Regions from separate parts of the Homo sapiens genome. Here region 1 is linked to region 2. The links come from fine-mapping of genetic effects on gene expression. A gene starts in region 2. The other region holds a variant in brackets. All regions are shown on one strand. Distances are between the middles of the regions.

Region 1 (8,000 bases), 25 kb before region 2:
CAATCCATAAAGGCTGGCAGTTCAACTTAAAAACAAAAAAAACTAAGGGCTTCTATGCCAAATGCCTTTACTCTCTACACTAAATTTCACCCTTAATAAAAAATTACACCCAAATGTTACCTTCTTTTCTTCTAAGAAAAGAAGCTTACATGAAAGGTAGCTATGGTGCGGAAAAATTCAGACTTGCTTGTGTTCACAAATAGATAATGCCAGAGGTGGTGGTCTCAGTTTCCAGTTCTTTGAGAACACTTACCTGGTACCTCTCCTAAAAGAGGCATTAACTCTAGTCAACATCTCTGACTGTCTGAATTCTGAGATATCTGGCCCTTTGTATAAATTAAATTAATCTAGTTTTACTGTGTGTGTGTTTCATCTTTTCTATTACTACTAGTTGGATGAATTTAGGTGTTTAGTCCTCATCCAATATGACAACTATGTTTAACACAAGAAATTTATGTGATTTTATTTCTATATGGCCCTTTTAATTTTTTAAAAGCAGTCATCTTTCAATTGTTAATGTGGAATGATACTGTTCTTTTTCCTATCTTATGTAAAACCTGATTTATAGGAGTGATAATTGCCACATATAGTATTAAGGCACCCAGTGTGTATAGGATGGACTACAATTCTTTAAAAAAAAAATCTAGACTGGGACTGTGTCTAATGTTACACCTCTCAACCCATGAATCACAGGGAATCCTACCCCAAGGAGACTTTTGGATTTGTATCTCTTAACTCTGAGCCTCAACCATTCTTTTCTTACAGGAAAATACCCCCAGTGAGTGGTCACTTTATTGGGGCCACAATTAGTCAAATATTTCTCTTCCTTTCCCTAACACACTTTCTCTTCCTTTTTAATTCAAGGAAGACACTGAGTCTTACACCTTGAATGGAGTGTGGGAGCCAGGTTTGCAATAATAAAAGCAGTTACATAAGTGCTTTGCATTTACCTAGCCCTTTCTTTAAAATACATAAAGAATCTGAGGTTCAGGTGAATCAATCATTACTGAATGCCTATCAGGAAGATTAACTTCTGCAGGATTGCAGAAATAAGTGATGGAGCTGGAATCTGAACCTTTGTTAGTCTCTAAATTCCAAGATTTTATCCTTCTGTCACAATGATTCTGCCTTTCCACCAGAGGCAAGGTTCATGAACAATTCGGATATCACAGAAGGATCAGAATTTTAAATACACCTGATTCCTACAACTACTGTGACAAATCGCAAAAAAATAAAAATAAAAAAACACCTCTCCCTACAGTCACACTCCTTTGCAGTGTAATTGCAGCTCCTCCACCCACTTGAATCTAGACTAGCCCCGTGATTTGCTTTGACCAATAGAATGTGGTAGAAATATAGTTGTTCCAAGCCTAGGTCTTAAAGAGTTTTGCATGGTTCTGCTGGTTCTTTTGTAACTCTAATGCTACTGTGTGAAAAAGTTAAGGGCAGCCTACTTTCACCATTCATTGCTACAGCCAACCAGCCAACTGACAGCAGATACGCTGAATGTGCCCAGCTGAGATAAGTTCAGCTTGGCCAGATCAGCAGAACTGCCCACCTCATTTGTAGACTCATGAAGAATAATAAATGGTTGTTATTTTAAAGCCACTAAATTTTAAAAGCAGTCAGCTCTAAACTGTTAATATGGAAGGATACTATTCTTCTTGGAAAGATACTGTTCTTTTTCCTATCTTATGTAATATCTCATTTACAGGAGTGATAATTGCCAAATCTAAGTGGGAAGGCACCCAGTATGTTTGTTATAGAGCAAATACTAACAGATACAACAAACATAGCTACTTTGAGCAAGCAGAGAAAACAAAAGATTGCTTATAAAGCTTATAAAAGAGGGCCCCGATATGCAAAAGCTTGATATTAAGACAAATATTTAACAAATCCTTAATTATTTGACTTAAATTTGCAAAGTAAGACTGAAAAATAAGACCTGATCCATTCAAGAATTTGCTAGGTGCTTTGGTGTAATAAATCTACTTATAAACATCAGTAATTGTGTATTTGAAAATCTACATTAAGAAAGTAAAGTCCTTTACACTGTGGGATTTAATTCACACTGAATCATACAAAAACCATTTTTTTTTAAAGTCTTTATTTGAAGAGGCAGAACCTTAGTATTATGACGTTCAAAGTGTTAGTATTCTCTTTAAGAAGAAGCCAAAGTAACTGGAGAAAAAAAGCAATGAAGTTATTTCTAAAACCCCAAGAATTTCTCAAGACATGAAAGGCTTGCTCTTCTTCAGACAGTTTTATTCTAATTTACCTTAACCCCAAGTTCCTCAGAGGTTCAAGTAGTTGATGAGTGACTGAGAGAGGAACTTGTGTGGATTATAGGGCAGGGGGGTGGGAGAAGAGAGCCAAATAGGAAGCATATGCATCACATATGCATTTTTCAGCTCCTCTTCAAGCTTATGGCCGAAATATAAATCTGATAATGGTACCACAAGTTAAAGTATCCACTTCCTAACTATAATCAATTAGTTTGAAAGTTATGCCATCTGCAACAAACTGACAGCTAGTATCATACTGAATGGGGAAAAACTGAAAGCCTTTCTTCTAAGATCTACAACAAGACAAGAGTGCCCACTGTTATTCAACTGGAAGTACTGGAAGACCTACCTAGAGTAATCAGACAAGAGAAAGATATAAAGGGAATCCAAAATGGAATGGAAGAAGTCAAATTATTCTTGTTTGCAGACTGTATGATCTTATTGGAAAAGCCTAAAGACTCCACCAAAAAAATATTAGAACAGATAAATTCAGTACAGTTACAGGATACAAAATCAACATACAAAAATCTGTGGCATTTCTAGATGCCAACAGAGGACAATCTAAAAAAGAAATCAGAAAGTAATCTCATTTACAATAGCTACAGATAAAATAAAACACCTAGGAATAAACTCAACGAAAGAAGTGAAAGAGCTCTACAATGAAAACAATAAAACACTGAGGAAAAATATTGAAGAGGACACACAAAAAAAGAAAGATAGTCCATGCTCATGGATTGGAAGAATCAATATTGTTAAAATGTCCATACTACCCAAAGCAATCTACAGATTCAATGCAATCTTTATTAATAAATATCAATGACATTCTTCACAGAAATAGAAAAAAAAAATCATAGGATTTATATGGAACCACAAAAGCCCCGGAATAGCCAAAGCCATCCTGAACAAAAAAAATAAAACTGGAGGAATTACATTATCTGACTTCAAATTATGCTACAAAACTATAATAACCCAAACAACATAGTTCTAGCATAAAAACAGATACACAGACCTAGAGAACCCAGAAACAAATTCATACACCTACAGTGAACTCATTTTCAGCAAAGGTGCCAAGAACATACACTAGGGAAAGGACAGTCTCTTCAATAAATGGTGCTGGGAAAACTGGATATCCATAGGCAGAATGAAACTAGACCCCTATCTCTCACCACATATAAAAATCAAATAAAAATGGACTAAAGCCCTAAATCTAAGACCTGAAACTAGGATACTAAAAGAAAACATTTGGGAAGCTCTCCAGGACACTGGTATGGGCAAAGATTTCTTTAGTAATACCTCAAATGCACAGGCAACCAATGCAAAAATGGACAAATGGGATCACATCAAGCTAAAAAACTTCTGCACAGCAA[C/A]GGAAACAACAAAGAAGCAACCCACAAAATGGAAGAAAATATTTGCAAGCTACCCATCTGAGAAGGGATTAATAACTAGAATATATAAAGAGTTCAGACAACAGGAAAAAATCAAACAATCCAACTTAAAAAATGGACAAAAGATCTGAATAGACATTTCTCAAAAGACATACAAATGGCCAACAGGTGTATGAAGAAATGTTCAACATCCTTAATCATCAGAGAAATGCAAATCAAAACTACAATGAGATATCTCACCCCAGTCAATTATATATCACCCCCACAATTGCATGCTTGCATTAAAACATGACCTGTACCCCATAAATATATATGCCTACTATATACCCATAAAAATTAAAAATAAATTTTAAAAATAAAACTGAAATAAAGTTAAGATCATAATGAAGCCAGTTTGAGATCAATTAATGAAAAAGGCTTATCTTATGAACAGCGTGTAGTATGGCACAACAGACAGAGTTCTCAAGTAAAAACCTTTGGCATTAAGGAGTTGTCTAATCTTAAAACACATCACTAAAAATAACTTCAGGAGTGCTTTTTAAGTGCCAGACACTGTGCTATGCAGTTTACATGCATCACTTTGTTGTGCCCATTTTAAAAGTGAGGAAACAGAGTTTACAGGGTTATGAATTTGGTCAAGTTCACACAGTTGTTAGTCAGATTCATACCCAGGGAATCTGAAGAGTCCTAATTCTTACTCACAATACTGGACCTAGTTTCCTCATATGAAGTGAGATCTGGATATCAAAACTAGCTCCATTTGGAATTCTATGATTCTTTGACAATGACGGGAGCATACTTCTTCGTGGTTTGTGTACTGGGTACAGGGATGAAGACTGGCACCTTTCACTAAAAACAAATGTCCCTGGGGTGTATGCTGACATGAATCCCTATATCTAATCCTTTCCTCGTATATGCAAATACAGAAATGGTGAGGCTAGTTTGGGAAACAAGTCTACTGCCCACAGTCATCCTGGTCAGTTCACTACCTCTCAGGTAAGGTCTGCCTGTCTTTGGGCTTTCTCTTCAATTCCTGGCAGAGCAGGCACTAAGTAAATGCTGAATGAACGGAAAAATATTCCACAGTTTCTGCTGGAAAGAGCCTGAAATTGGATGGCATTTTAGAATGTGTCCTACAAATGTCTTGAATGTAACACCCATAAACCATAAGCTTCAGAAAGGCAGAAACAACTAAAGCTTTGTCCACTGTTGTATCCTCTGCAGTTTGAACTGTGCCTCACATATAGTAACTGCTCAATAAAAGTGCTGTTCTTATTATTGTTACTAGATTCTTACAGTTCCAGTTTTCCCTAAGAGAAAGTAAAATATATGTATTAAAGGCAAGGCCATGCTATTTGCTTCCTCTGTGGTTCTTTGTTCAAACAGCCCTACCTAAATTGAGTACCTTAAGTGCTAGGTGTTATAGTGAAAACGTTCCTTGTCCTTAAGGAGACTGGATTTACTTGGAGATAAATTAGAAATATATAAACAGTATTAATTCAACAAACATTTACTGGGTACCTACTATGTGCTAATGACTAATTTAGGTAGAAAGAACTGTGTGGTCTGTGGCTGCCAGAGGATACCATCAGATGAGGTGGGGGGCTATGGCCTGGACTACATAAAGGAAAGCATACAAAATAAGTGGCACTAAATTGGTCTTGAACATTACACATATTGTTAAAAGCAGAGAGAAGGAGCCTGAATTCTAGACTGCAACAGTCCTCAGCTATGTTATATGGCACACTGGTATGTTGTTATCAATTTAGGACTCATGGCAAGGAATTTGTTAGTAATAATGATTTATGTATTTTTATTATAAAGAAAAGTATAAACACTGCCAGGGGGAACTGTGACTTGCCATAATCCTCGAAAAAAGTAATTTGGAAATATCTGTTAAAATTTTAAATACACATACCCCTGACTCAGGAACCCAACTTTGGGGAAATCTATTGTATTATTCCGTTTTCACACTGCAATAAAGAACTACCTGTGTCTGGATAATTTATGAAGAACAGAGACTTAATTGACTTACAGTTCCACAGGCTTCAAAGGAAGCATGACTGAGAGGCCTCAGGAAACTTAGAATCCTGGTGGAAGTTGAAGGAGAAGCAAGCACATGTTCACATGGCAGAGGAGGAGACAGAGAGAGAAGGGGGAAGTGCCACACACTTTCAAACAACCAGGTCTCATGAGAACTCACGATCATGAGAACAACAAGAGGGAAGTCCACCCTTGTGATTCAGTCACCTCCCACTAGGCCCCTCCCCTGACATGTGGGGATTACAAGTGATTGAGATTTGGGTGGGGACACACAGCCAAGCCATATTATTCTGCCCCCGGCCCCTCCTAAATCTCATGTTCTTACATTTCAAAACACAATCTTGCATTCTCAATAGTCCCCGGAAGTCTTAACTCCTTCCAGCATTAACTCAAAAGTCCAAGTACAAAGTCTTCTTGGGTCAAGGCAAGTCCACTCTGCTTATGAGACTGTAAAATCAAAAACTAGTTACTTCCAAGAAAAAATTGGGATACAGGCATTGGGTAAATTCCCCCATTCCAAACTAGAGAAATTGGTTAAGACAAAGAGGCTACAGGCCCCATGCATGTCCAAAAACCTGCAGGACAGTCATTAAATCTTAAAAATCCAAAATGATCTCCTTTGACTCCACGTCTCATGTCCAAGCCACGCTGACACAAGGGGTGAGCTCCCAAGGCCTTGGACAGCTCTGCCCTGGTGGCTCTGCTGGGTACAGACCCTGCAGCTGCTTTCACAGGCTAGCATTGAGTGCCTACAGCTTTTCCAGGCACATGGTGAAAGCTGTCAGTGGATCTACCACTCTGGAGTCTGGAGGATGGTATCCCTCTTCTCACGGCTCCACTAGGCAGTGCCCCAGTGGGGTCTCTGTGTGGGGGCTCTAACCCCATGTATCTCCTCTGCACTGCCCTAGCAGAGGATCTCCATGAGGGCTCTGCCCCTGCAGAATGCATGGACATCCAGGCATTTCCATACATCCTGAAATCAAGGCAGAGGCTTTCAAGCCTCAACTCTTGCCTTCTGCACACCCATAGGCCCAACACCACATGAAGGCTGCCAAGGTTTGAGGCTTACCCCCTCTGAAGCAACAGCCCAAGATTATCTCCTGGCCCCTTTTAGCCACAGCTGGAGCTAGAGCAGCTGGGATGCAGGGCACCATGTCCTGAGGCTGCAGAGAGCAGCGCAACCCTGGGCCTGGCCCACGAAACCATTTTTTCCTCCTAGACCTCCAGGCCTGTGATAGGAAGGGCTGCCATGAAGGTCTCTGACATGCCCTGGAAACATTTTCCCTATTCTACTGGCTATTAACATTAGGCTACTCTTCATCTATGCATATTTCTGCAGCTCACTTGAATTGCTCCCCAGAAAATAGGTTTTTCTTTTCTACCACAAGGTCAGGCTGCAAATTTTCCAAACTTTTATGCTCTGCTTCTCTTTTAAACCTAAGTTCCAACTTCAGACCATCTCTTTGTGAACACATATGACTGTATGTTGTTAGGAGCAGCCAGGCCACATATTGAATGCTTTGCTACTTAGAAATTTCTTCTGCCACGAACTCTAAATCATCTCTCTCAAGTTCAAAGATCCACAGATCTCTAGGGCAGGGGCAAAATGCTGTCAGTCTATTTGCTAAAGCAAAGCAAAAGTGAACTTTGCTCCAGTTCCCAATAAGTGCCTCATCTCCACCTGAGACCACCTCAGCCTGGACTTTATTGTCCATATAACTATCAGCATTTTGGTCAAAACCATTCAACATGTCTCTAGGAAGTTCCAAACATTCCCTCATCTTCCTGTCTTCTTCTGAGTCCTCCAAACTGTTGCAACCTCTGCCCATTATCCAGTTACAAAGTTGCTTCCGCATTTTCATGTATCTTTATAGCAATGCCCCACTGTCCTGGTACCAAGTTTCTGTACTAGTCCATTTTCACAGTGCTATAAAGAACTAACTGAGACTGGGTAACTTACAAAGAAAAGAGGTTCAACTGACTCATAGTTCCACAGGCTTAACAGGAAGCATTACTGGGAGGCCTCAGGAAACTTACACTCACAGTGGAAGGCAAAGAAACCATGTTTTCACATGGCAGAGCAGGAGAGACAGTGAGTGAAGAGGGAAGTGCCATACATTTTCAAGCAACCAGATCTCATGAGAACTCACTATCATGAGAACAGCAGAGGAGAAGTCTGCCTCCAGGATTCAATCACCTTTCACCAGGCCCCTCCCCTGATATGTGAGGATTATAATTCAAGATGAGATTTGGGTGGGGATACAGAGCCAAACCATAGCATTTATAT
Region 2 (16,009 bases):
TCTACTTGAGAACTTGCAGGAACATTTGAACGTAAAATTTTGTTTTGCACCATGTTGACACCAATTCCTCTCTTAAAGAGATTGATCAGCAGACATAACTTGTCTACTTTATGGCAAGAACCCTGTGAGCAAGACCTGTGTCTAATACTATGGTCTGGTACACTGTTCACTGCATTGCTTTAGCAACTTCAAAACTCAAATTCTTTAACAGAAGATTCAGTTTGAAGAATAGGGCTCTTTGTTAGTACTTCTGCTTTTAACTCTTTAATCTCAAGCTAACACTTAACGAATTTACAAATAAGGCAGCACAACTTTTGACTATGTAAGTAAGGGTATCATTTATTGTAATATAAGAACATATTCTAAAACAGCTGAATGACCATGCACAACACAATATGATATTATGAGACATTATACTCTCCTGAATTTATATAATTTTTCGTTAAGATATCTGTTAATGAGCAACATTATTTTAAAAATGTTAAATAAAATCCTCACCGTTGGCCAATGGGATACTGAAAACCACTATTTAAGGAAAAAACCTGAAATGGTTACGTACAGATGTCACTTAGGTTGTCTACCTTTCCTACTTTCAAAAGGCCACTTAAACTTATTCATATAAAAAAGCACATGAATCTTTAGAGAACACATATAAATCAATGAAGATTTACATCTATTAATCTACCTTAAATGTACCATTCTTAAGAAACAGAAAAACACTGATCTTACCTTGAATAGCCATTAGAAAAAACTGTTCGACCAGGGAAGTTCAGAGTCCCCAGAGAAGTCAAGTTGTCATCTCCAGATCCTTGGCACCTATTCCAATTTTCGGAACCAACGGGAATTGGTGGAATGACATTAAAAATAGGCTTCTGATCCTGCTGTTGAGAAAGGGATGCTGTATTCATGTCATAGTGGTACATCTGTCCTCCAGAGGTACTCACACCATGAACAGAAATGGCAGACATTTTATTACCAATTATATTTGCTCCAGGAAAGCTTGCCTGACAGTAAACTGTGCCCAGTTTCTCTTGCTTAATTACCCCAGGGGTGCAGAGTTCGATGAAATCTTCTTTTTCTGTTTTCACTTGGGGCAGTGTTACATTACTGGGGCTTGACAAAACCAGATCTCCATTATCCTTAATTTTGGGTTTAGTGTCCGGTAAAATGAGAGGCTTGCAGTCCTCATTCGAGTTTCCTTCCAAAAGGAATGAATCGTCTTCTCCCGCCAGAGGAGAAAGCAAACAGTTTTCATCTATCAACAGGTCTGATCTCCAAGGACTCTCATTCGTCTCTTTACCTGGGGACCCAGAAGAAAACTCCAAATCCTGCAAAATGTCAAAGGTGCTTTGGTCTGTGGTATACAATTTCACATTGCCACCGTTGGTGCCAGTCTGGCCCTTCAAATGTTGCTGTTCTGAAGATACATCAGAGTGAGTTTTTGGAAACTCCTTCTCTGTGGGGGCAGCAGACACAGCAGTGGATGCTGAACTCTTGGGGTTCTCTGGAACACTGGTCGACCTATTGAGGTTTGCAATGCTTTCTTCCAAAAGCTTTAAGTCTGTTTCCCCCGAGGAAAGGCTGATTTGGCCCTGCTGTGGGAATCCCAGGTCATTTCCCATCACTTTTGTTTCTGTCTCTCCCATATACAGTCCCATTGAGAGTGAAACTGCTTTGGACAGATCTGGCTGCTGCGCATTGCTTACTGAGCCTTTTGGAAAATCAACCAAAAGTCTTCGCTGCTTGGAGTCTGATTGAGAAGCGACAGCCAGTGAGGGTGAAGACGCAGAAACCTTCACAGTAGCTCCTCCTCTTAGGGTTTTATAGAAGTCCATCACATCTCCCCTCTCCTGAGCAAGCACACTGCTGGGGTTTTCTTCTCTACCAGGAGTTAATGATTCTTTGGAGTCCATCAGTGAATATCAACTACAAAACAAAAAACAAAAACGGGGGGAAAACATCATAAGCTCTAAAGTCACATTATCTTCCTGATCCGATTAGTAAGAGGCAGCTTGTTAAATGAACCTTTTAGTTAACTCCGAATCAAATTCTTTGTTACCAGAAGAGTAGTTTCTATCTTCCAGAATAAAAAGCCATGTCCCCTGCTCCCATTCAGCATGCCACATTTAAAAGTACAATGCAATCCATTTGCACAGCTGAGGGCAAAAGTGTATCGAACTAAGCTTGGCTATTCATCCTGCCGCTCACTGAACGTGTAGCTTTGTTAATCACAGACATTATAATTCATTACATCTGATTATTCTGAAGGTTCAAGTTGATGTCAAAGTATTTAATTTCAAAAAAAGGAAGTGTGATCATTAAAATTCCTACCTCTTTTCAATCACGGCTGTTTGCTTTTCTGAGAACCAATACATATAACATTTGATAAATACTATGCTAGAATTCTCAATCCCTAATTACTTCCAAATTTCCCTCCTACCAGCTAGTCACACATCCAAACCTTTGAGTACAACCAACTGGTGAACCATGCACGTTTTCTTTGAAAAATAAACAATGCTGATCTGCTTATCTTCCGACAGGCTGGGAAAAGGCTTTTTAACCCATACTTCTGACTGGATGTGCCTACCTCCAAATTTTGGATATATGAAATGAGATACACTTTATATAGGCCAACTAAAATTTAGATTTTAAAGAGCAGAAGAGAAGGTGTAGTAGTTTCTCACTACGTTGTTAGCTTACATAACTTAAATATAGCTGACCCTTATCATAACTCACAAAAACATCTAGATTAAGCTACATTTGTTTACATTGCTTGAGATCCTCAATATGAAATGCTATTACATCTCTAAGTTCTTTCCTTTCCAAACAAATATCGAAGTACTGAAAAATGGAAAAACACAGAACCGTAAAATCACATTCATATAAATTCAGGTACAACTGTATCCAGTAAAATGTTCAAAATAATTTTCTCTGCCTTCACCTATCCAAACCTTCACCTATCCCAATTCTCAGCCTATTCTCAAGAGAGTAAGACTGTTAGTATATCGTTAATCAGGGTGTTTTAAGAGATGGGCTAAGACGGAGAAGCGCATTTGGGACACTATAGTCAAATCCCGTCCAATAAAAGGTAACTTTTCCTATGCGATGACGTTAGGCAGCATAAATGTCACTGGCCCTCACTGAAAAGTGAATATGAAGGTAGAGAGAGGGGTGTGGACTTGCCACTACAAATCTTGAGGGTAAACTGCTTATCTCCCCACCTCTCTGCCCCGTTTATCTGAGGCGATAACGATCTCTAAACACGAGGTATCGAATGGAGCCCAATGAATTTCCATGCCGCTTTTTTGACAGCTGCCTTCAAACCCGAAACCAAAACAATATTTCCTAAAACGAAAACGCTCCCTCAAGCGACATTATCCCCCAGTTTAAGTTGCAAATAACCCAGCCACATTAATTGGCCCTAATGAACCATGCCAGAGGGTCTTAAGTGGTATTACAAGGTTGCAATTATCAAGTCTGCAACCCCAAACGTCAAACTAGCACTTGTAAAAATCGCAGCACAAAACCATTACGGTTACAGGGGGTCTTTTTCTAAAAGGGGCCACTTAGAAACCTCAGGCGCGAATTAACAACAAACGCTAAAGAGCAAGCCCTTGCGGGGCGGGGGTGGAGAAGAGAAAAAAGTGCGAGGTTAAAAGAGAAGTACGTCCAGACCTGTTGAGTTCTCTCTCCGACACGCCCACTTCTAACAGATAACGCCGGCCCCGGCCGCAGTCTCCAAGTTGCGGGCTGTCAGCCCCCCGCGTGTGCACCCTCACGCGCCCCGCACGCCCTCCTCAAGCCAGGCGCCGCCGGGGCCTCCCCGGAGCCCGGGCTCGCGCTCGGGCGCGCCGGGGTGGCGTGCAAATATTCGGGCGAGTAAAATTCAGACGCGGCTTAGCGTTCACCACGAAAACGGGTGTCGGGCGACCCCCTTGGAGGGAAAGGGGACACTAGGGGGAGAAAAGAGGCCAGGATTCCCGCGAGGAATGAGAGGCTCGAAGCCCCCGGCAGTTCGACAGGGCTCCGCTCGCCGTCCGAGGTCAGGTTCCTCCCCCTCGGCCCGGCCAGGGGACGCCTGCGGAGGGAGAGGAAGAGGCCAGCGCTGTCACCCGCGCGCTGCCCTTTCGTCACCGTCGCCCGGCCCTTGCCAGCCCCCCACCCCCACTCCCCGAGGCTAATAAAAGTTTGTAGGCTCCCGCGGCGGCCCCCGAGTTGTCTCCGGTCCCAGCGGCACCTCGGGGGAGCGAGCGCGCCCCGGCCCCCTCCCGCCTCGCTTCTTACCTCTGGCAGAGGAGCCGCTCGCCCGCCACCGTCCGCAGTTCCCGCCGCAGCCGAGATAAACAACTTAGCTTGTGAACGCAGAAGGAGCAGGAGGGAAATATATTTTTTTTTTCTAAAAAAAGGAAGTAAACAGCCGCCCCTTTCTCCATGGGTGGGGGGAGAGCCCCTATTTAAGAAAGTCTCCCATTGCCCAGCTGACAAGCCAGCCCTCCGCCCCGCGCCGGGCTCCGCGGGTCGAGGTTCCGGGCGCGCGTGCCCCGTCCCGGTCCCAGCTGCTTCGGCCGCTCCGGCTGCGGCGTCTCCTTCCACCCACAGAATCCGTCCCCGACGGGCAGGCGGTGACTCGGGCTCCCGTCACAGACACGAGCTCGCAAAATGGAGGAGGCGGCGGCGGAGGGAAGAGAGCGCGGACACGCGAAAGGGCAGCCCGGCCTGGGCGAGCGAGCGGGACCGAGCGGGGAGCGGGTGGAGGCGGCGCCACGGCGCGCACACACTCGCACACACGCGCTCCCACTCCACCCCCGGCCGCTCCCCGCCCGAGGGGCCGCGCGGCGGCCGCGGGGAACGATGCAACCTGTTGGTGACGCTTGGCAACTGCAGGGGCGCCCGCGGTCCCTGCCCCCACGCCCTCCGCGCGGGCCCCGCCACCCCGGCCCCGACGGCGCCTGCACGCCCGCGTCCCCTGGCGTGGCCGCCCCGCCCGGTGCGCCGCGCTTCGCCCCCCGCCCCCAACTCCCCAGGAAAAAGGGTGGCGGCGGCAGCGGCGGGGGCCGACCTGGTCTCTCTGGGGCGGCGTTAAGAGGGCCACCGAGTTTCTCCAGTTTCTTTTCTCGCTACCTCCTTCCCGCCCCCGCCCAGCTCCGCGGCTCCAGACCCACTCGGGAGCTCGCTCTGCCCCTTGGCGGCAAGCGCCGCCAGTGCCCCTGCGGGTGACAGCGGGCGGGCCACAAGAGCCGGGGCGCCTCCCGCGGCTGAGCTGCGTGAGTGGCCCGCGCCGCCGCCGCCGGGCCGAGTTGCGTGAAGTGTGTCACTTCGAAAGGGGCTACGGGGTTGCACGGAAACGGTGCCGCAGCGTCTCGGCCGCGCTCGGGGCCGGGCGGCCTGACACGCCCTCTGGGGAGGCTTCAGGGAAGGGACGGGATAGCGGGGGTCGGCGCATACGTACTTTGGGCCCGGGGGGAGTCGCGTGCCGGCAGGTCCCCCACCACCGCATCATCTGGGCGGCCGGGTCTTCAGCTGCCGCCGCCGCGCTCTCGCACTGGGAGAGAAGTTGCAAAGCAGAACCCACCCTCCCCCGCGCCCCGACCGTCCCCCACCCTCTTCCCCGAGTCTGCGAGGCGGCGGCGGCGGCAGAAGGAGGCGCCGCCTGCCAAGTTCAACCCCCACCCCTCCCGCCCAATGTGCTCACACTCGAAGGAAGTTGCACGCCAAATGCAAAACCTCCAGCGAGCTGGATTTCTTTGCACTTTTTTTTTATTATTATGATTAAGGAAAGCAGGGGGCGGCAGGCTTAAAAGCAAGTTGCAGGCGAAATAGTAAGTTGCTGGCGAAATATAGCCCCCCTTCCGAAACTCCTGACCTCTTCTTCCACCCCGGCCAGGGCCCGCGTCCAAGTTCCCGGTGCAGGCCCCACCCCCGAATCTTGACATTTGCTGCCCTCGACTCTGTGCGTTGCTCACCCTATCACGTTCATAGGACCCCTGCCCCTACAAATAAAACAAAATACAGGCAGCTTTAAAATGCCAGCGTTCAACTCCCTACAGATGTTCCTGTTAGGAGCTTCCCCCTCAGTCCAAGGGGAAGGGAACTCGTGGTCCGTCCTGAGAAAGGAGAGGGCCGTGGGGCGAGGGGTGCCCGTGCGGGAAGCCCCCGCCCCAGCTCCCTTCCCCAGCTCGCCGCGTCGGGAAGGCTTGGACGATGCCGGGACCGAGCCTCCTACCTTGTGCGGCACAGATTATGATTTTTGTGACTCTGGGAAAGGTTGTGCTGTGTGGGTTTAGGGTTTGGGGAGGTAACTTTTGCGCCCCCACAGGTGACATCGCTTGCCAGCTCCTGACACGGGCGGGGGCTGCCGCAGCTCCACCTAATCCTGCTCGGGCGCTCGGCCACAGCCACTCTCTCACCTCCCGCCGCGCTCAGACTGACGGCGGCTCCCCCTGCTCTGACATCTTGAAGACGATTGGGGAAGCGCGTCCCGGAAGCCGCCCGCCGCCATCTTGGTAGGGTACAGTGTCGCCAGCCCGTCCCCGCGGCCACCATCTTGGCAAAGGTTCGCGATCGCGGGTAGCCTAAGCCGTCCTTCCTTGGTTCTCAAGGGTAAACGGTTCCCTGTGCATTGTCTGATGTGAAAGGAAAGAAGTAGGCTTTCAGCAAGCCTCTTGTCCGGAGACGATCTACGGGGGCCGCCTCCAGAGGATTCTGGAGCCGCCATCTTGGCAAAGGAAGAGATACTCGCCACCTCGGAAAAGAAGAGGGAACCAACCGTATGCCAACGTAGAACCCTCAGCCAGAAGAATTTTTATGAAGGGCGCTGAGCAACTCCATGTTAACAAAACCCCCTTCTGGACCCAGAAGGCAGACTCCGCTTCTCCTGTCCCTTGGCACAAGTCAACTAGAAGGAGGCCCTTGCTTTGGATGCTCATCTGTGAGGCTATGAGAACACTGCTTGACCTAGTTGCCCGTTTTTCCAATTTCTGAGCCTCAAGCACTAGAATGAGATGTCTTTCGTTAATTTGGCCCCTAAACTACCAACAGTTTCATGGGAAACAAATCAAGACCCAACCCTACAATAATGTTTTACACGTTTTAAAAGTGAGTTAAATAGCCCATGCTAATAATTATCCTTGTACACTGCTTAAAATGATTAAGAATTCTATTTATATATACATGTATGTATACATATGTATACACATATATATTATATACATATATATGTATATAATTAAGGGGACAATACAGTTGTCTAATAGAACACATCTCCCCATGCCATTAGCCTGTCTCACTGCTGAATCTCTGCTCTAAGAATCCACCTCATCGCTCATACATGCTCAAATCCTTAGTGGTAGGTACTCTGCTTAAATAATTTATGATTTCACAAGAGTTCCCAATTATTCTCCCTTCATTTTTTTTTCTCTGCAGATCTTAATGGGGAAGAATACGTAGTTTTAAATATGCCATTGAAAACGTTTTTAATTGAGCAAAAAAAAAAAAAAACTTATCCTAATTTCTCTCTTCAGCAATCTAAATGTGCCTGTTAATTTTTTAATTTGATAGCAAAAAAATTCTCATTCTTTAGTCTTTCACATTCATTTGGAAGCATGCATGAACTATAAGTTAACCCCTCTTTTTCAGAGTAATACAAATAGTTATGATTTGTGGCTAACATTTATTGATCCCCACTCTTCTGCTGCCCACTTTTGCTGACAACAATTAAATGAGATAGGTATTGTTATTCGATTTTTCAATATGAGGACAACAGGCTTACAGAGGTTGATGCTTGTCTAAGTTCACATGGCTCCTATGCATTAAGAGAGGAATTAGACAATATTAAAGTGGTTTTCCTCACTGATCTCAATCATTAACATGAAGTAGTATATCAATTCTGATAGACTACTTACAATATGTGCTTACGGAATTTAATTGAAGAGATGAACTCCAGTGTGCCAGAAAGGACGTGAGATTTAGCATTATAATAATAACACAATTCTAACGAAAGTCAACATTTATTGCGCATCTGCTGTCTGACAGACACTATTGAAAGTGTTTTATGCACAGTATCCTAAGTCTTTAGGTATGGCATTTACTAATCTGTAACCCTGGGAACTTATAATTACTACAAGAAATAGGATGAATCCCTATCTGAGTGGGAAGGTATTTGATTGTCTTAGAAGCAGAGGTGGAAATGAAGGTGATGTATTCAGACTCAGTCAAGGCAAGGACCTGATCTATCTTGTCATAGCTTTATGTCCCACTCCTGGAACACAGCCCACTACATAGCAGGCACCCAACAAATACATTACAGGGTTATAATAACATTGAGTCAACTAGTTAACTAGATGTAAAATCACTTTTACTGGGTTATTGTTGTGGCCAAATGGGTTAATAAAAAGTGTACAGATAACCCTCAAGATCCTCATTTTTATTGTTTTGTGTTTAAACATCTGAGTGCTCCCCCCACTTTTTTTTAAAATAAACTAGATTAGATTCTTGATTGTATGTTCTTATAGTATTCTGCATACTTTGTTAGCACATTACAATGATAGTTCATTATTTGTGCCCTCATTTGTTATTTCTCTGTATCACCCACCAGAACATAAGTTCTGCAAAGGCAGGGACTGTGTCTGTTTGTTCACCCCTGTATCACTAGTGCATAGTTGGTGCTCAGTGGGTGTTGGTTAAATGAATGAATGAAGATAATATATGGTCTTAGAGACTATGTCCTAAGGCCAATAAAACCTTAAGCCTGACTAATAACCAAACCACTTGATACATTGATTTCAGAAACTGATATATTACCCAAGTGAGTTCTCCCATTCTCTTCATGTTTTGTCATCTCCATTCCCACTAAAATAATCCAAGCTGTACTGCCAGATTACCCCTCCAAAACATCAACTAAATCAGGCTGTGCTCCTTCTCAAGTATATACAATAACTCTTGATTCTAGTGCTACACAGATCCCAACTCCCAGTATGGTATTTAAGATCATCACCTTTACCTACCCCTTTGTAGAAAGTGAAGCCTTCTAGTGGATGTGATTGAACTGGAGTTTAATTTAAAAATTAGTTAAAAGAAGGAAATAATTTTAAGAAAGATAACTTGCAAACTTTAAACTTTTGAAACTTTTGAAACCTAAAACCTGTGATTGAACATTTATTTTCTAATCTTTTGATGAAGGTCTAAAGCTTTTATGAGCCCACTGACTGGAGTTCCATGTCTTCTTTAGTGTGTGTATAAACTATACCTGTAATGCATTGATATAGTGTAGCAGTTAAAAGCCAGACTATAAAGGCCAAATACAGTCTCCACCACTAAAAGGAATGTAACCTTGGGCAGGCTAACTCTCTGTGCCTTTTTCCATCATCTGTAAAATGGGGATAATAATAGTACTGATTTATAAAGATTAAACCAGTTTGATATATGTGAAGTGCTTAGACGAATTCCTGGGTCATAGGAAGTATTTGCTCATCATTAGCAATTATTATTCATCTGTAGAATTACTATTTTCCCCCTTTTTTTTAAACAAAGTAGAACAAGAAATTAAAGATACACATTCAGTATCCATGACCTGAAATGCTTAATACTGAAAGTGTTTTAGATTTTGGATTTTTTTTTTTCTGATTTTGGAATATTTGCATTATAATGAGATATCTCGGCCATGGGACCCAAGTCTAAATAGGAAATTCATTTTTTGTTTCATATACACCTTATAGCCTGAAGATAATTTTATACAATATTTAAAATAATTTGGGGCATGAAGCAAAGTTTGTGGTAAGTACTTCCATGTAGGATTTTTCATTTGTGGTATCATAACAATGCTCAAAAAGTTTTGGATTTTGGAGCACTTCAAAATTCAGATTTTCAAGTTAGGGATGTTCAATGTGTACTTTTAGAATAATTTTCGTGCAGATTTCTAAATTTTTATGATTCCTCACTCCTGCCCCCACACCAGTCTTTTAAAATTGTCTTACATCCACCTTACTTGACGCAACTGTAAGTCAAGGAAGGCTATAGGGCATCTTTCCATTTAGATTTTATAGAACAATTTTTTACACTCATTTCATCATTTTACTTAATATTTAATCAAATTAAGTAAGTACAGTAATAAGCAACAAATGGCATAAACATGTTTGGGAAGCAAAAGCACCAGGAACTGTTGGTAGCTCAACTGGTGGGAGCAGAATCGTGTGAAGTGCAGAAGTGACCATGGTTCCAGTGTTCAGCGCACCCTGGGCATCAATCCATTGTTTTCCAGGGAGACTGGAGAACTGGATCAGTTGAGATCGATATTGAGTAGTGTCTGTTACACGATTCTGTTAAAGAAAGGACATAAGACACCACATTCATTCCCATGTCTCCTGTTGTTTATCACATATATTTCCTCTTACATAAGCATACTTCTTTGTGACTTATTTTCCTATAGTCCGTGATTCTTTGTCATGGCTTCAGTTTCCATTTATTCTTTTTTTCTGTACTCTCTCACTTTAAATGTGTGATGTTAAATATAAATGGGAACCATGTATACGTGTATTGTGTACATGTGTATTGTGTATTTTGAACATGTTAAGCCCACACAAACAGCTTTTATTGGTGGTTAGAACTTACTTTAAAAAATTATTCCTGCAGCTATCATAGCTATTATTTGTCTCTTTAAAATAATATCTTGACTTTGGAAAATACTTCTATTCCTATTTAACTTTATAAGGTAAGAGGTTCAAGGGAACCCAGCTGAGCTTTGAATGAGCCATCTCTGTCTGCTTCAATATTTGTATTTTATGCCAGACATGCCTATTATAAACAATTCACACTAGTACAGCAAGTTCTTAATCATAATGAACTCCACTTTGGTATTCCTCGTTGTAATTAGAATTAACATTCCCGCCTGGACTGGGAAATGCTAAATTATTACTAGCTTTCCTGCTGTTTTGCTGTCTTTCATGATGCTTTCAATGATTTCATCATAAGCAACCTAAAATATCACAATTTGTGCTCATATGCGTGAAATGCCCAATGGGTGTCCTGGTTGACTTTATTCTTTATGCTGGCAGAACTTAGTTTAAGCAATACCTGATTCAAGGATGAGGCAGCTATCAGCAGATAAATGAGATAAATGTTGCCATAAGCAGGAACTCAATGTTTTTAATGTTTGGAGGCATTAGAGCAAGCACACTGAATAATTGCAACAAGTATTACGTACTTTGTTTTTTCATTTGTGGCATTTGTGGCTCCTCATATGTCATTAGCTTTCTTCCTTTCTTGATTTAATCTCCTTTTCTCTCCCATGTTCCTTTGGTAAAGAGTGTTTCAATCTGCCCCGCTGCTATGTGGAATCTTTCAGCTCATTTGAGAACCTGCATTTCCATTTTGGTTCTTATATCTTCTTATTAGAGCACACAGGGTTTTGTTTTGTTTTTAAGCTAACTTAGAAATAGTGGGGTTGAGATGAAAACATTCTTGGTATAGGGATCCCTTAACAAGATAAGAAGATACTTCATATCAAACTCCAAAGTGCTACAAAGGACATTTGTCACCATTGAAAAAAAAATTGTTTTGAGATCAGTATTTGTCAATTAAATTTTCTCTATCCTCTTGTTGAATTTTCAATACAAGACCTGGTTTTTAGACCCTATTCTGCCATTTACTTACTTGAATGAGCCTGGGGTAGGCATTTGATTTTTCTCAGCCTTGTTTTTCAATCTGTAAAGGAAGGATAATGATATCTACCCCACCTATCACACAGGAAGTAATGTAGGCCTTACATGGGATCATGTGTTCAAACGTTTTTAAACACTAAGCTTTATTTGGAAAACTTAGAGGAGCTTATGGAATTTTTGCACTATCACTTCACCACAACAAAAATGAAAATTATCATTGTCTCTTTTCACTTATTTCCCAGGGAATCAGTGCAATGGGCAGTCTGGAATTTTAGGCAGGGGAGTGATAATTCAGTAGTGCACCGGAAACAATTGTACCAGCTTGCAAGCACTGACTGTTAAATTTTCAGAGATTTTGTAAGTTGGTTGTTAATCACAGTCATTATTAAAAACCAAATTATTTATAAACTCACAATCAAATATTTTAACAACAAAAATAAATGCTGAAGACTTTACTGCCTAATTATTTTACTCCATTTTACTATTATCTATGTTCTTAAAGTTATTTCTGTCTGTTCTGTATAAGAACATACCATACGATGGTATGATGCAGCGTATCCCTTCCTAACGCTGCATTCAGAAATGTTATTTTGGTAGTTTGAAATCAACCATGGTGGAGTACCTATACTATAGAAATTGGGAAACATGACAAACCAGAGCTTGATTTGTTTTGTTGATTGTCTAGACTGACAGAGTAGAAGAAATTTTAATAATGAAGATTGAACTTAAAAGTGCCTTAGTTTGTGAACACAAAAACTTGAGGAAATATTTTTCTAGTACTTGAAAGCTATTATCAGCAAAAGAAGTCACTTCTGTCATTAATGAACGAGTTTAGTTCCAACATCCATTTTTGTTGCTTCACTTTTATCTCGCTCATTAATGTAAAAATATCAACCAACATTCATGTTGGGACTTCAGTACCATGAATGACTTCTTTGCTGATTGGATATTAATCAGATATTTATTTGTGGTCTGATTTTGCCAAACGTGTTTGAATTTTAGCTGTAGGTTGGCTATGGACACAAATATTCTGCAAAAATCACTGAAATGGTTCTGTGAAAATCACATGGCCATATAGAATTTACTATTAAGAGTGTTATATTTTTTCTTGCTTTTTGTAAATTATGTGATACATATATGTAAAAATTATAAAACACATAGATACTCTGTTCCCCTCAGGAGCTGTTAAACATTTACTAACACACTAATGGACATAATCTAATTTACTATTTGAAAAGCTCGTTCTGCTTGCGATGTGGAGTATGAGTTGTAGGGGCTAAGGGAGAAAGCAGGGAGAGCAGTGAGGAGACAGGCACATTGGCCCAAGGAAAGATGACGAAGTTTGTATTGGTTGCAATGGCAGGGGAGCTGGGGAGCTATGGTTGGACAGGAGAGGTATTTTGAAGGCCAAAGGTAAGCAAAGCAGTCATCCAGCAGCTCTATGAAAGAGATGGACTTCCAGGAACTTTTTATGCTAAGAGAAGACCTTCTGGTGAAGAGTAAGCAGGCTTAGTTGAATGGGGTGAGTGCATAGAAAGCTGTGCCAGAGAAAAGGAGTCAGGGAGGGTTGTAGTAGGAAGTAGGAGATGTTGGCAGTTCTAGGATTTCAAGGTAAATATCTTTATATCAGATGGAGAAAGTTAGGCTGGATTGTTAGTCAAATGTCGAATTGCCTCAAAGTGCAGGGGGGGAGGGGGGAGGGGAAGCCCCAAATACCAGTAACATGTTGCAACTGGAACTCACATACTAAGCTACTCATCTAGTAATTTCATTGATTTTTGCCCACATGGAGGGGTTATTTGTTCATCTCCATGCCTTGAGCCTATCCCAATTTATAGTAGATTTTTTTTTCTCACATTTGGCAATTTTAATTATAAAACTCTCACACTGAATCACCCTGTGTTACACATATATTGCTGTCCCCTTTCATGCTTCTCACTTCTTCATTCCTATTTTTCTTTGCTATGCCATAAAGAAGGACCCTACCAAAAGCCACCCTATTGTCTTGCCTATTAGTTATCAGAAAACTTCTGGCAACCACAGTTTTCCCCACTTTCCCTGCTTCCTCCATTATAACCTACAATCTATATTCCACATTACAGGTTTTTTTGTTTGGGTTTTAACATTTTTCAAGAGAAGTTATTACATTTTATGGAGTTTAAAAAATAGTAAATGTTTTGCAAAAGAAAGAATCATGTCTCCACATTCACCCACCCTTTCAACCCTAATGACCAGAAGAAGGAAAGATTCTCAGCTATACAGCTACCAATGACTAACACTTTGAGGATTCAGTTTGGATATGTTGTTTACTTTGGTCTTCTGATGATTAGCTATTTTAGGCATGGTTTCAATCAATCAGGGAATGTTTATTAATAGAAGAGACTTTCTTAATTAATATTCTCTCCATTCATTCCTTCAACAAAAGAGAATTCCTTCAACAAAATACAATTCCTTCAACAAAATAGCAACTATTATATGTTAGGCCCCAGTATAAGGCTGCAGGGATATCAAAATGATAACAATCTCTTCTCTGGAGGAAATGGAGACAGATACGGTTACAAGTCATTATAGAACAATGCAGACTTACAGAAATGTGTTAGATGCATAGGGCACTTCATAAGCTTCAAGAAGTCATCTGGTGTTTAAGGTTAGGAAAATGGGTGTGGATATGGAGATGGTGGTCACGGAGGGTTTCCTAGAGGTTAGCAGGACTGACTTGAATTATGAAGGGTTTTCTTCAAGTTATTTGTTTTTTTTTTCTCTTGAAGATAATACTTCTAATGGAAGCTTGTAGACAACATTCATTAGGTCATTTTTTGGTGCATTTATAAGAAACCCCACTGTTAAAAACAGAGTTTTTTGATTCACTGAAAAGTCCAGGGGAAGTTTAATTTCAGGAGGCATGACTGGATTCAGGGGCTCAAATGAAGTCCAAAGGGCTTAAATTTTATCCCTTAGCTTCATTTTCCTGTTTTGTTTTGTTTTGTTTTCTGGAAAGATTATCTCCACCTCTCCACCTGGTGGCCTGTGGCACCTGGATTTAACACATCCTGCCAGGTTAGTAACTTCAGTGGAAAGAGTTCTTTTCCCATAATTTTAGTAGTTGTTCCTGGGAGGGGTTTCACTGGTCTAGTTGGTTCAAATGCTTATCCCTGGACCAATAACTATGACCAAGGGATGTCAGGAATGTGTACTATGATGGGCAAAGCCTAGCTCAAGTGCCCACCACTGACACCTAAGAATGGGGTACAAATGAAAGAGAGAGAAGAGGAGGTGCTTCTCCAAATAATTGGAGATTTTAAATTTAAATAGGAGAAAAGGGATTTCTGGGCATGCAGAAAAAAACCCAGATGTCCATGACAATAGCTTTTTATCAAAATATTAACAGTGACATAAACATCATATTTTACATTTTAAGAGAATAGACATGACTTAAAATGTTTGTCAGCAATGGAAAGAACCCTGAAAATTAAGTATAGTTGTTACAAGTTTTATTGGTTTCACTTCCTGCCTTTAATAGAATGTGGGTTTGTACTTTGAAATTTCAAATGTTACACAAATGAATTGATGATTGCTTTGCAGAAATAGTATCTCCACTTAATTGGGCCTTTTTTGGGTGATGAAGTGATGTTTACAACTTTTAAGCTAGTTTTATCGTCTTCCACTGAAGGAGTTTGTCTCACTTGAATATGATTCCAACAATATGATGGGTATAGGCGGCTGCAGTGAGCCTCTGTCTGCTTATTTTGCTCCTTCTGTCTTGACAAGCTGAATGTCACGCAAATGTCTCAAGCCTCTGCACTGGGCAGGCAGGAAGCCAGAACCAGTAATAGAAGCAGTAGGCACTCTGTGAATACTTGCTGATTAATTTTAGCTCCATAGGCCTGATGGGTTTTCCATCCCTATAATTACCATCAGCAAATAGTTATTGAATGATGTCCAGCATATTTTTATTTCCCTTTTCTTGATCCTGATTTTCATTTTCTATTTTACCTCTCTGTGATTTTATCACGTGTGTTTCTGTTCATCAGACTAACAGAGCCTCCTGTGATTAGTTTATAATCACTCAGTTTTATTTCTACCTATGAGATATCTTTATCTGTCTGTCTAAATTTGTCTTTGTTATGACCCAGTTCAAGTTCTTTCTGGAATTAGGGAAAGGATGAAGTGTGAAAAAAAAGGAATTAAATAGTTCGGTTATTGAATGGCTATTTTGTGCTTGATGCTATATTAGTACATTTCCACATTTGCTTTACAAGTTAGTCTTTCTTATTAGAAGTAATGCTTAACAAGCCTACAAGTACTGACTGGGCTCACTTTATAGAGAAAATGGAGAGCAGTGAAGGGTGAGGAGG

Evidence for each region.
Region 1: its variant is fine-mapped to the expression of NR3C1 in whole blood (TOPMed, PIP 0.98).

The regions. Positions count from the first base shown.
Region 1 is chr5:143,378,310-143,386,309 of GRCh38, forward strand. All of the region lies in intron 2 of NR3C1 (nuclear receptor subfamily 3 group C member 1), which reads right to left. Among named protein-coding and RNA genes, the nearest start is that of NR3C1, 21 kb to the right of the region's middle. The variant C/A (reference allele first, on the strand shown) is at 3,653.
Region 2 is chr5:143,398,927-143,414,935 of GRCh38, forward strand. It overlaps NR3C1 (nuclear receptor subfamily 3 group C member 1), which reads right to left and starts at 4,760. Exons shown (of 9, transcript NM_000176.3): 1 at 4,285-4,760; 2 at 730-1,926. The coding sequence starts at 1,913. LOC128966704 reads right to left here and starts at 9,635. Exons shown (of 2, transcript XM_054328421.1): 1 at 6,408-9,635; 2 at 5,740-5,990. The coding sequence starts at 6,715. The coding sequence ends at 5,960. RefSeq lists silencers at 109-178, 3,756-3,855, 4,066-4,145, 4,386-5,655 and enhancers at 1,617-1,736, 5,661-6,428, 5,706-5,775, 5,816-5,955, 6,356-6,595 and 2 more.